3 linked regions of the Homo sapiens genome follow. The protein of the gene in region 1 purifies or fractionates together with the protein of each later gene. This does not show direct contact. Each region holds a gene or a part of one and is shown in the gene's direction. Other genes may lie near its edges.

Evidence for each region.
Region 2: the proteins of EHBP1 (region 1) and ARID3A purify together in Homo sapiens (affinity purification with mass spectrometry; one large-scale study listed by BioGRID and IntAct). This does not show direct contact.
Region 3: the proteins of EHBP1 (region 1) and ACAP2 purify together in Homo sapiens (affinity purification with mass spectrometry, with the first as the bait; one large-scale study listed by BioGRID). This does not show direct contact.

The regions. Positions count from the first base shown.
Region 1 is NC_000002.12:62,992,162-62,995,808, forward strand, and holds part of EHBP1 (EH domain-binding protein 1), read left to right. Parts: intron 1-1,368; coding exon 1,369-1,507; intron 1,508-1,709; coding exon 1,710-1,816; intron 1,817-3,647. UniProt on the Homo sapiens protein: May play a role in actin reorganization. Links clathrin-mediated endocytosis to the actin cytoskeleton. May act as Rab effector protein and play a role in vesicle trafficking.
Region 2 is NC_000019.10:924,702-928,929, forward strand, and holds the start of ARID3A (AT-rich interactive domain-containing protein 3A), read left to right. Parts: upstream 1-1,333; 5' UTR 1,334-1,358; exon of another isoform or gene 1,359-1,496; intron 1,497-4,228. UniProt on the Homo sapiens protein: Transcription factor which may be involved in the control of cell cycle progression by the RB1/E2F1 pathway and in B-cell differentiation.
Region 3 is NC_000003.12:195,289,486-195,293,132, reverse strand, and holds part of ACAP2 (arf-GAP with coiled-coil, ANK repeat and PH domain-containing protein 2), read left to right. Parts: intron 1-680; coding exon 681-868; intron 869-1,317; coding exon 1,318-1,427; intron 1,428-3,647. UniProt on the Homo sapiens protein: GTPase-activating protein (GAP) for ADP ribosylation factor 6 (ARF6). Doesn't show GAP activity for RAB35.

The DNA.
Region 1 (3,647 bases):
GTTGCCAGGCCTAAAAAAATTTAGCTGTGTTTGTTTATTTTGGTAAAGACTTGAGTATTAGACTATTGGATAGTTATATAACAGTAGAACTCTATTTTTCTTTAAAAAAATAGAATAAAAGCCAAAACTGTTGCTATCATAACTATATGGCTAGGATATTATAAGCATGATATTAATGATAAATTCATTAGATAACTTTAAAAAAATAAAATAGTGTTATTTTCATTATTATGGTTTATCTGTATAGATAAAATTGGTTTTGCTTTCCAAAACACTCTTATATAGTAGTCTTTAAAGTTATTCCAACAAAAGGTGTGCTTTAAACAGCTTGCCTTTGTATGATTCCTTTTAGTTAAGATTTTGAAAATGGTGTTTATAAAGAACATATAGAGTCCATCTGTTCTCTTGAAGCTTTCAGCGTTGACTTGGGTTTTAATTTTTTTTAATAAAATGCAGTTTACACATTTATAAATGAGGCATTCTGTGTTTGTGGAAAAGAATAAACTGTTACCTTCCCCTGAGGATTCTGTATCCCAGGCCTCCTTGAGGCTAGAGAATAGGCCATTGGAGGGCTCCCTCATTACTGATTGTCTCAATGCAGAGGAAGGGCAAAGTCTTGGTAGCTTTTGATAACCAGTTTCAGCATTCAGCAGGCTTAGCTATTAGTCATGCATCTTAGCCTTTCCCTATTTACTTTCAAAACACTTAATAAAAATAATAAAAGATTAGGTATAAAATGAAATATTTGTTTGGTACACAGCACCTCGGTATCTGCAGCTTCCACACACTGCAGTGGTTCAGTCTTCTGGGATATTTCTTGTTGATAGAACCATTTGAATTTGTTACCAGTATTAACATAGGAAGCTCCGGAAAAGATAATTGTAGTTTCCTTAGCTGTAAAGGGCTTACTTACAAATCTGGCTTTGGAAAGTTATAGCTGATGAAATGCAGTTCAGTAGGGTAGTATTATAATCCTACCTTTTAGCCTTCATCCAGCATTAGTGGTTTATCTCAATGGGCATAAAATTAGAAACTAGTTCTTGTTGTCATACAAGTCTGTGGGGCTGTACAAACTGATGACACAGAATAGTGGGGGAAATAGGAGGCAACATGGCTTTTAAATGATATGTATCACTGGTGGAAGACACATTCGTATCAAAGTTATCAAGAGTTAAACCATGTGTCCCAAAGTTTGTGATTACAGGCAACAGAACTTGCAGTTGAGCTCTTTAAAGTGCTTTAAAATCCTTTTCTTGCAAAAAGTTTCTAAATCAGTGTTATCTTAAATCAGTAAAAATTGCCTTACTAATGTGTAATTTTATGTTTATGAGATCAGGACTCTCTTACCATGTGTTGTTTTACGTTTAGAGTGGCACAGAAGATCTCCGGACTGAACGATTACAAAAAACAACAGAACGTTTTAGAAATCCTGTTGTGTTCAGCAAAGATTCTACAGTCAGAAAAACTCAACTTCAGTCTTTCAGCCAATATATTGAGAATAGACCAGGTAGAACACTTTTTAAAATGTTTTTCCATGTTATGGTTTAACTATATATAGATATCTATATATAGTATATATATATAGTATATATATATAGCATATATATATAGTATATATGTATATAATCTGGTAATGTAAATTCACATTTCAATACACAAATATCAAGCTTTACAATAATTTTACATGTCTTTCCTCTTTTTTTTTTAAGAGATGAAAAGGCAGAGATCAATACAGGAAGATACAAAGAAAGGAAATGAGGAGAAGGCAGCGATAACTGAAACTCAGAGGAAGCCATCAGAAGATGAAGTGCTTAATGTATATTAATTTTTTGTGTGGTTTCATGATTGCTGATAATTCCAAACTGTATGTGGAAATAGTGCCTTTATTTGTTAAAATGAGATGTTAGGTTTTTTAAGATGTCAATCTCCAGTGCATTCAAAGCAGAGTGAGAGGGGTGCACTGTTGAATTAGTCTGCAGTGTGGTGATAATTGTCAGATAAAAAAAAATGAATTTTTCAGAGTTCCACAGCCCCAGTTTCCTTGAGACATTTCCATCAGGGCACTTCCCATAAAGAGATTCCAGTATTGATCTACTGGGAGGATTTTAATTATTACAATAGCAGATACCGCAGAGCTGCAGTTAGAGGGAAAAGTCACATGAGACCTGCTAGAATTTCTCAGCCAACCCATTTTGTTGGCTTGGGTTAATGGGTGTTCAACCTTTCCATTATCCAGATCAGCCGTGAATTACTAGCTGAATGATGTTTGCATTAATATAATATATATGGTAATTTCTTCACTTAATTAACAGGGAGGTTCAGCTCAGTAGGGGTATGGGCTGATCATGTGTAAAATTGATTTGTGAGGGAAATATTTGATAGACCGCAGGGAGAAAGCTGCTTTTGATGGACAGCTGCGGGACAGAAGCAGGAAGAACAAGTTTTAACTTGAATTTTTGTCTGGAAGCATAGCTCTCTTTAATAGTACTACTTTTTAAATTATCTACAGTTTTTCTAGGTATTTTCTCTTGTTTTCAGTGTTAAAATAGTTGGATTTTAAAATCCTTATACAAGTACACTCAGAGTCACCAACTACATTTTAGGACTCTAAAATCTTCTCATTTTAAGTTGTTTACTTTAGAAGACCTGGAAAGGGATGAGCTAGAAAAGAACAGCTCACTAATAATCCTGATGAAGTATTTGGTATAACTTTTAAGTTACAGAATACTTAACTATACTATGTACTCACACTACAGAAATCTGATTATGAAATTTCTTTCTATTTTTAACTGAACCAATCAGTAAGAGCAATGAAGTTTGTGTGTTGCTTATCACTTCTGCTTCCTTATGTATTTGTTTTTTGTATTATCTTTGCAAACTACTATATTTGTTTTGTCTGTCTGTATGGGAATGAGAAAATAAAATATCCCTTTTGAAAATGATCTGCTATCTGGCAGATAGGTTCAAGAAGCATTCACCAGATTATCCCAGATTTTAAAGTTACCATTAGCATTTATTCTATTATTTTATTTTTTTCTGTTATATTTTGTATTGAGATGGAAGAATATCCATTTTGCATAAATTTTTTAAAAATACAGTGACTTTTAAAATCAAACTATCCTGAGAAATTTAGTTTTATGATTTCTTAAAATATTTTAACTTTAAATTTGTCAACTGCCATAATCAATTTAATAATAAGTTGGTATAAATTGAGGTCACATATGAGTACAAATTACTTACCAGTTCAAAAGGTATGTAAGTTACACATATAGTTAGACATATTTATTAATCATGAGAATTCTAAAATATGCTCATAATTAACATAATTCTTTATTTTATTTCCTGTTTAAGGAGTAGTGAAATATAATTCTTTATAGCTTCTAAGAGATTCACATGCTAGGAAGGGAAGGGATTTTACAGAAGAAGTTTGTTCACATTTATTTCTCTGAATAAATAATGTTATAAGTGCTTATGATAGGAGTGGTGGTGGTAAGAATAATCACTTAATCAGTTCTTCAATATTTCTTAGCTAATTAGATCTCTTAGCCCCAAAAATGTCAAAAGGTAAACAGGTAATCCAAAGGGAGCCATAATTAATCAGTTTTTATGACTATACCATAAATAACCCTGACTTTGATGATTTAAAT
Region 2 (4,228 bases), on another chromosome or scaffold:
TTTTGTGGAGGGAGGAGGTGCAACTAGGTGGAAGGACAGAGAGAAAGTTGCAATGCCGTGTGCTAGTCTAGGGAAAGGGGAGGGAGACGACTACAACCCCGCCCCCAACACTCAGGACCGGGGACCCGAGCCCGCCAGAGACCCTCCACAAGTGAGGGTCCCCCGGGGTGGCCCCTGCCCGCCCTCCAGGCTCCCCTGGGGCTCACGTCCGGGCTGGAGCCTGGGCCTCTGCGCTTAGCCCCCTGGGGTCGCTTCCCGCGCACACAGCTCCCTGCAGAGCACGCGTCCCCCTCCCGACCGCCTTCCTTGCACCCCGCTCGGTGCCTCAGTTTCCTGCTCTGCGCAGTGGCGACAAGAAGGTTGCCAACTACAGAGAGGAGTGAGGGCTGGAGACGTGCAGGGACCTCCCTGGAGGGAGGCGCGGGGCACGTGGTTGGGCAAGCGACCGCTCAGACCGTGTAAGTCATCACCACCTTCACGGGGGGGTGGTGGGCAGCCGAGCTCCCGACGCTGGTGACAGCCGGGCCGGGCAGGGTCGTCCTGGTTTCACAAAGGGGCTCCGGGTCCCAGCGCGCACCTCCCCACGCCCGCGCCGAGCCCCCGTCTGCAGCCCGTCCCTCCCCAGAGGGAGGCCGGCGGGACCCTGGTTCCCTCCCTCCGACGCCGCCCGCCCAGCTCTGCACCGGGTCTTTCAAGCCCATTTCTCAGACTTGGAAACGGCGGCTCCGGAGAGTGAAGTCACTCTCTCAGGGTCTCTCCGTCTAAGGGGCGAAGGTGAAACTCCGAGTCCACGAGGCCCAGCGTAGGTGCTCCGTAAGAAGGGAAGAGACTTGGTCCCGGATCTGGCTCCGATGCCTCCGGCCAGCCCGCCCAGGCGGAGCCCCAGTCAGTCCCCTCTTCTTCCCCCGGGGCGCTCCCGCCCCAGCCCCTGCCCCCGGCACCCTCTGCGCTTGGGGCCGCGTCGCGCACTTTGCCCACCGTCCCTAGGCCGGGGGCGGGGCCTCCCGCGGCGCTGTTCCCCTTCCCGTTTATTATTTATTATCCTTTAAAGGGGCCGCGACCTGAAAATTTCCGTCCACTCTGCCCGGCTCCCCAGCGCCCCCGGGCTGGTTGCGCGTCGTCAGACCGCGGGAGGGGGGCGAGGGGGCGTGCGGGGAAAAGTGGGGAGCCCTGGCGAGGCCCTCCCGCGCCCGGGCCGCGGCGCTGAATCACCGGCCAGGTATTTGCATCCGAGAGCGACTCGTCCCCTGGTGATTTGTCTGGGGGTGGGGGAGGGGCGGGGCGGGGGCCGGCCGCGCGCGGGGCGCCTCTTACCAATCGGGCGGAGGGGTGTAGACGCGGACGCGGCTGGCGGCTCGGTGAGTCGGCGCGCGGCACAGCCCCGTGGGTCGGGGGCCGGGAGCCAGCGGCGCGCACCGGCGGCTGGAAGCCAGGCGGGCCCGGGCAGGCCGACCCCAGGCGCGGGGCGCGCGCCCCACTACGAGCCGCCCTGCGCGGTAAGGCTGGGGAGCGCGCTGGCCGTTCCCAGCGCGGGTTCCGGTGCCGGGGTGGGCGCAGTGCGTCCTGGAAGCCAAAGAAGGGGGTCCCCAAAGTTGGGCGGAGATGTTGGTGGGGGTCCCGGACTGGGAAGGCGGCCCTGGCGGGCTGGGGTTCGGGGAGTTTTCTCTGCACCCCGCTTGGAGACTTCACTCCCCACTGGATCAATCGCTCAGGGGCGAGCAGGGGCGATCGGGGGTCGCGAGTGCGCGCCCCCCCCTCCCCAGCGGAAGGAAATGGTCTCTGCGCGCGCGCGGGGGGCTGCACCCCGATATTTTATTTCATTTTTATTCTTTCTCCCCGAAATCAGGGATTTATTCGGGAGCCCAGAGAGGAGGGAGGGTAGTTCCCGGCGAGCCTCCCCAGCCGGGCTGGTTTATTTATAAAGTGTCCGCCCCAGCGCAGAGAGGGGCCCCCGGGGGAGACACCGCGGCCCCCGGGCGCCGGGGTGGGTTGGGCCCGGGCGCCCGGTTCCTCGGCGGGGATACCCAGGAAGAGCCCCCTGACCCGTTTCAGGGCCCCCCAGACACAAAAGCGGGCGCAGGAAGCGCTGGGAGCGCGCGTTTGTCAACTCCAACGCTCGGCGCCGGCCCCGGGCGGCGGGTTCAATTATCTTCCGTTTTTAGGCGCTCGGGCTGGAGGGGTTCCCCCCCCCATGCAAATCGGCCGCTTTCCAAGAAGCCTTTGAAATCCGGACCAGGGTTTCTGTCTTCTTATTTCTTCTCCTTCTTGAGTTTTTTTCTCACTTCCTCCAGGCCCCCCCAACCCAGGACTTTCTTAGCCCCCTCCCCAGCTTTCTGCCCCGCCCCTCCCCCTCCTCTTCCCTTCGTGGAGTGAGGGGCCCCTTTCGCCACCCGCGGGCCCGGGGCCTTGCACAACTCTTTAAATAACCATGTTTTGCAAGGCCCGCGCCGAGCGGGTGACCTCTCTCCGGAGGCCTGGGGGGAGGAGGGTGTGGCCCAGGATCCCTCCGCCCCCCACCCCTGCCTGGTCCAACGACCACCCAGCGCCCCGTCCCAGCCTCTCCCTTGGGGCTGTCATAAAATGGGGGTGGGGGTCGAGGACAAAGGGCTCTTGGGGGGAGGGGTCTGAAGGGGGTGGGCGTAGCTAGTTTAGGGTTATGGCGGCGATGGGGGGGCACCCAGCCCTGACCTAGGGGGGAATCTGGGATCCCCACCTGCCCCCTCCACCGGCCCCAACGTGGAGGTCTGTCCTGCTCCCCTCCCCCACCCGGCGACCCGGAAGGGTCATTAAACCCAGCAGGGCTCGGAGCGGGCTGGTGGGGGGAGTGGCTTCCTTTGGCCTCTTCCTTCTGTGCCCCCAAAGAGGGGGGGCTTTGCTTGGAGCTCTTCCGTGGGGGGGGCCTTGTCTTGAAGTTGTCCCAGGTGGGGGAGGGGCGACAGACCCGACCAGACCCTGAGTCAGAAATGCCCCCTCAGCACTTTCTTGGGTTGGGTGGGTGGGGGGTGACCTCCAGCCTGGGGATGGGGGGCTGGGTGCCGCCCTGGTGGCCTCCGGACCGCCAGGCTCTCCTGGTCACAACCCAGCGCTATGGCCCTGAGGTCTTTGTGACCTGGGACCTCTGTCCCCACAACAGATGGAACAGAGGCTATTTTGGAACATGCCCTCCTCGCTTTCTCCCAGGGGCCACCCACCTGCCCCCCACTGCCTTTTCACCCATGGGGCCGAAAGACTCAGGGGTCTGGGTAAAGGGTGTCTAGGGCAGAGGGGCCACAGGACTCTCTTGTCCGGTGACTGGGGAGGCTTGGGGGTGTCTGCTGTGCAACACTGACCTGGGTGGGGTCGGGTCACAGGAGGGATCTGAGTCCCAGGGGTCCCTGCCTCCTCGTCTCTCCAGGCCTTGTCTGCCCAGGAGCTGTGTATGAGTCTTGGGGGCTCCTTTGCCAGGGTAAGGGTTGGGGGTGGCCTCCTGGGCCCAGCTGCCTCTCGGGAGGGTGGAGCTTTGCCCCCTCCGCTGTCCCCATGATGTGCCTTCCCTCTGGGGTGTCACTCCAGGCCTGTTGGGTTCTGCCCGGCCTGTTTTATTGGCGGCCTGGGCGGGTGGAGGTGTGGCCTGGGCTAGGGGGTGGCTCGGGTGGGACCCAGGCCCCAGGAGTCTCTGTTCTTCACCCAGGCCATTAGGACTGGCCCTGGGTGGAAGGCACTCTAGGCTGGGTGAGTGTGTTGCCGTCCGAGACATCTGGCCCACTCGGGATCCCAGAGGACCGGGAAACTCCAGACCCCTGTTGCCCTGCAGAGATTGTGGGGTCTGCGTGGGAGGCTCTGTGGTCACCCAGACCTGGGTTCAAATCCCACCGCCATGTCTCCAAGCAGAGGATCCCTGAGCCTCAGTTGTCCTCAACCATGAAATGGGACCGCCCTGGTGCCCCCTTCTCTGACACCTGTTGGTGCCCACCTTAACCTCCTGAACTCGATTCATCCCTCCTTGAGTGCCATGGGTTGGGGGGGTACTGTTACCCACACTGTTTTGCAGGTAGGGAACCTGAGGTCCAGAGAAGTTGTGGCTTGGGCGTTGCTGTTGAGTTGTGTGATGGGGGGAGGGTTAGCCCAGGGCCCGTATACAACAGGCGCTCAATCTCCAGTCTGGCCTGAGATGGGAGGATACCTAGATACCTGGAGGCCAGGCTGGGCCGCTCCAACAGGGACTCAGGCAGCGACTGGAACTTAGAAC
Region 3 (3,647 bases), on another chromosome or scaffold:
TGGATACTGGCAAGAACAGAAAGGCCTGGCATATCAGTGATTGTCTTTATAGAAGAAGAAGGTTGAATGTTGGGGAATAGCTATGTGAAAATCTCCCATAAGCTCATTATGATAGATTAATGGTTTCTTATGTCATAGCTTTATTTTTTAAAAATTGCAATAAAATGCACATAAAATTTATCATCTTAACTTTTTTTTTTTTTTTTTTTTTGAGACTGAGTCTCGCTCTATTGCTCAGGCTGGAGTGCAGTGGTGCAATCTCAGCTCACTGCAACCTCTGCCTCCCGGGTTCAAGTGATTCTCGTCCCTCAGTCTCCCAGGTAGATGGGATTACAGGTGCCCGCTACCATGCCTGGTTAATTTTTGTATTTTTAGTAAAGACGAGGTTTCACCATGTTGGCCAGGCTAGTTTCAAACTCCTGACCTCAAGTGATCCACCCCCCTCGGCCTCCCAAAGTGCTGGGATTGCAGGCGTGAGCCACCGTGCCTGGCCCATCTTAACCATTTTTAAGTGTACAGTTTAGTGGCATTAAGTATATTCCCATTAGTGTGCTATCTTTACTGCCATTCATCCACAGAACTCTTTTTATCTTGCAAAACTGAAACTCTACCTATTAAATAATTTTTTCTTTTTCTGCCAAGAGCTCATTTTTATTGATGTGTATGTGTTTGCTTTTCAGAAGGAGAAAGGCAAGATTCTTCTATGTTTCTTGACTCGAAACATCTTAATCCAGGACTTCAGCTTTATAGGGCGTCATATGAAAAAAACCTTCCTAAAATGGCTGAGGCTTTGGCTCATGGTGCAGACGTGAACTGGGCCAATTCAGAGGAAAACAAAGCGACACCACTTATTCAGGCTGTATTAGGGGTATGCGTTTATACAATGACATTTTCAGTAGCAATCAAATATTTAAAAAAAATCATAATATGTTCTGAACTGGCTTTAGTATTGTCTTTGCTTCAAGAGATGGGTTAGAAAATAGAAGGAACCTCTGTGCTATTAATAGTAGTGGTTTCTGAGCACCACTTCGGTTGTTTCAAGTTTTTTTGCAGTGGAAGAGAATTCCGATAATGAAAGTATATAATGTGTTTTGCTAGTTCACAAACTGCAAATGAATCTCTATTAGAATTAGTTCTTGGGAAGAAAATAATATAATTTATAATTTCTCTGCCTTGGCTGAGGGATATTTTTTGTTTTGGAGAGAAGGAAATGGAAATGCTATTTGAGTAACGAAAACCAATTGTTTTTAAAAAGAAATGTATTGTTGTTTCTTGTTATTTGCTTTTGTCTATAGTTATCCTCTTTTTTCCTTTAAGGGCTCTTTGGTGACGTGTGAGTTCCTCCTACAGAATGGTGCTAATGTCAACCAAAGAGATGTCCAAGGGCGGGGACCATTGCACCATGCCACCGTCTTAGGGCACACAGGGTAACTGCAGTGCTTTCATATTTAAGGAGACTTTATTTGAAAAATTATTTTGAATTAATGTTTTAGTTTTTCTTAGGTTAAAGTTTTCAGGTAGTGTTTGTAAAGAGATGTGTTCCATGACTTATTTTGTCACGATGGAATTTGAAAGTTAAAAAAAATCTCTTTCAGAAAAAGCTACTATTGGTTTTCAGATACAAAAATTTCAAGGCTTACTTTGACCTTAACTTGTCATTAAATAGATCAGTTTTAGTACTTAACTTTCTCTGTTATTAAAATTGTGATTTTGTCAGACAACTTAAGCCTGTGTTTGTGTTTATGTATGTATGTACATATACATTATTTCCATAGCATGCACACACATAACCTATTTAAAGATAATTTGATGACTTTGTAATTTTTAGTTTTTTCCACAGGGTAGCTAAAGTCAAATTCTAAACTAAATTCTTACTTTGGGTTGTTGACATTGTGTCTTCTGGAGCGATAGTAAGATTCACAGAACAATAAAGCCTTGAAAATGGACTTTCTATTATTAGGAAGTATACATGAAAGAAAATGCTGGCTTTATGTGAAAAATTTGTGTCTTAAACGCTTGTTTCTTAATAAGATATCTCAGGGTATCCGATTATTATGTGGTGGATAAGCAAGAAGCTCTTATTTTGAAATATTTTTAAAATAGCATCTTCATTTATTTAGAGACAGGGTCTCGCCCTGTTGCCTAGGCAGGAGTGCACTGGTGCAATCATAGCTCACTACAGCCTTGAACTCCTAGGCTCAAGCGATCCTCCCCTAGTAGCTTGGGTTATAGGTGTGAGCCACTGTGTCTGGCTATTTTTATTTATTTATTTATTTATTTATTATTTATTTATTTATTTATTTATTTATTTATTTATTTTGAGATAAAGTCTTGCTCTGTCACCCAGGCTGGAGTGCAGTAGCACGATCTCAGCTCACTGCAACCTCCGCCTCCTGGGTTCAAGCGATTCTCCTGCCTTAGCCCCCTGAGTAGCTGGGATTGTAGGTGTGCACCACCATGCCTGGCTAATTTTTTTGTATTTTTAGTAGAGACGAGGTTTCATCATGTTGGCCAGGCTGGTCTTGAACTCCTGACCTCAGGTGATCCACCTGCCTCAGCCTCCCAAAATGCTGGGATTACAGGTATGAGCCACTGCGCACGGCCATGTCTGGCTATTTTTATCATGGCTTGTTTTCTTCTATCAGCAAAGAGATTCAGTCAGATAACTTCATCGTTTAAACTTTCTACACTTAAAAAAGGTAGTATTTAAGGTAGTACTTAACTCATCCTTTGTATTTTCTTCTTTTTTTTTAAGAGATGGGAGTCTCACTATGTTGCTCACGTTGGAGTGTGGTGACTGTTCATAGGCACATTCATAGCTCACTACAGCCTTGAATTCTGGGGCTCAGGATCTTCATGCCTCAGCTTCCCAAGTGGCTGGGACTACAGGCATGCCCTGCCACTCCCGGCTAATTTTTAAATTTTTTTTAGAGACATTTTGCTATGTTGCTCAGGCTGGTCTTGAACTTCTGACCTCAAGTGATTCCCCCTACCTCTGCCTTCTGAGTAGCTGAGATTACAGGTGCTTACCTTGCCCAGCCATTATTTTCTTCTTAAACTATCAAAATTCTTTCCATTTTATTTCATAGACTCCATTTAGTTATTCTTTCATATTTTAGATTTCTTTTTCAGTTTATTCAAGTAATGAATATTTGCAAGTACAGCAAGCAGATTACTTCCCATTCTTTGCTGTTGTATTATTATTATGAAGTTTACATTGCCTTGGCTTTCTTCATTTTCAAATAATGACCTTGAGTGATCTTTTTTTCATTTAGGTTTATAGATACCTGTGCACATGTTTTTATGATATTCTTTTTTTTTTTTTTTTTGAGACGGAGTCTTGCTCTCGCCCAGGCTGGAGTGCAGTGGTGTGATCTCGGCTCACTGCAAGCTCCGCCTCCCGGGTTCACGCCATTCTCCTGCCTCAGCCTCCTGTGTAGCTGGGACTACAGGCGTCCGCCACCACACCCGGCTATGTTTTTTTTTTTTTAATTTTAGTAGAGACGGGGTTTCACCTTGTTAGCCAGGATGGTCTCGATCTCCTGACTTTGTGATCCGCACACCTTGGCCTCCCAAAGTGCTGGGATTACAGGCGTGAGCCACCACGTCTGGCCTTTTTATGATATTCTTTGAGGGTAGGGACCACA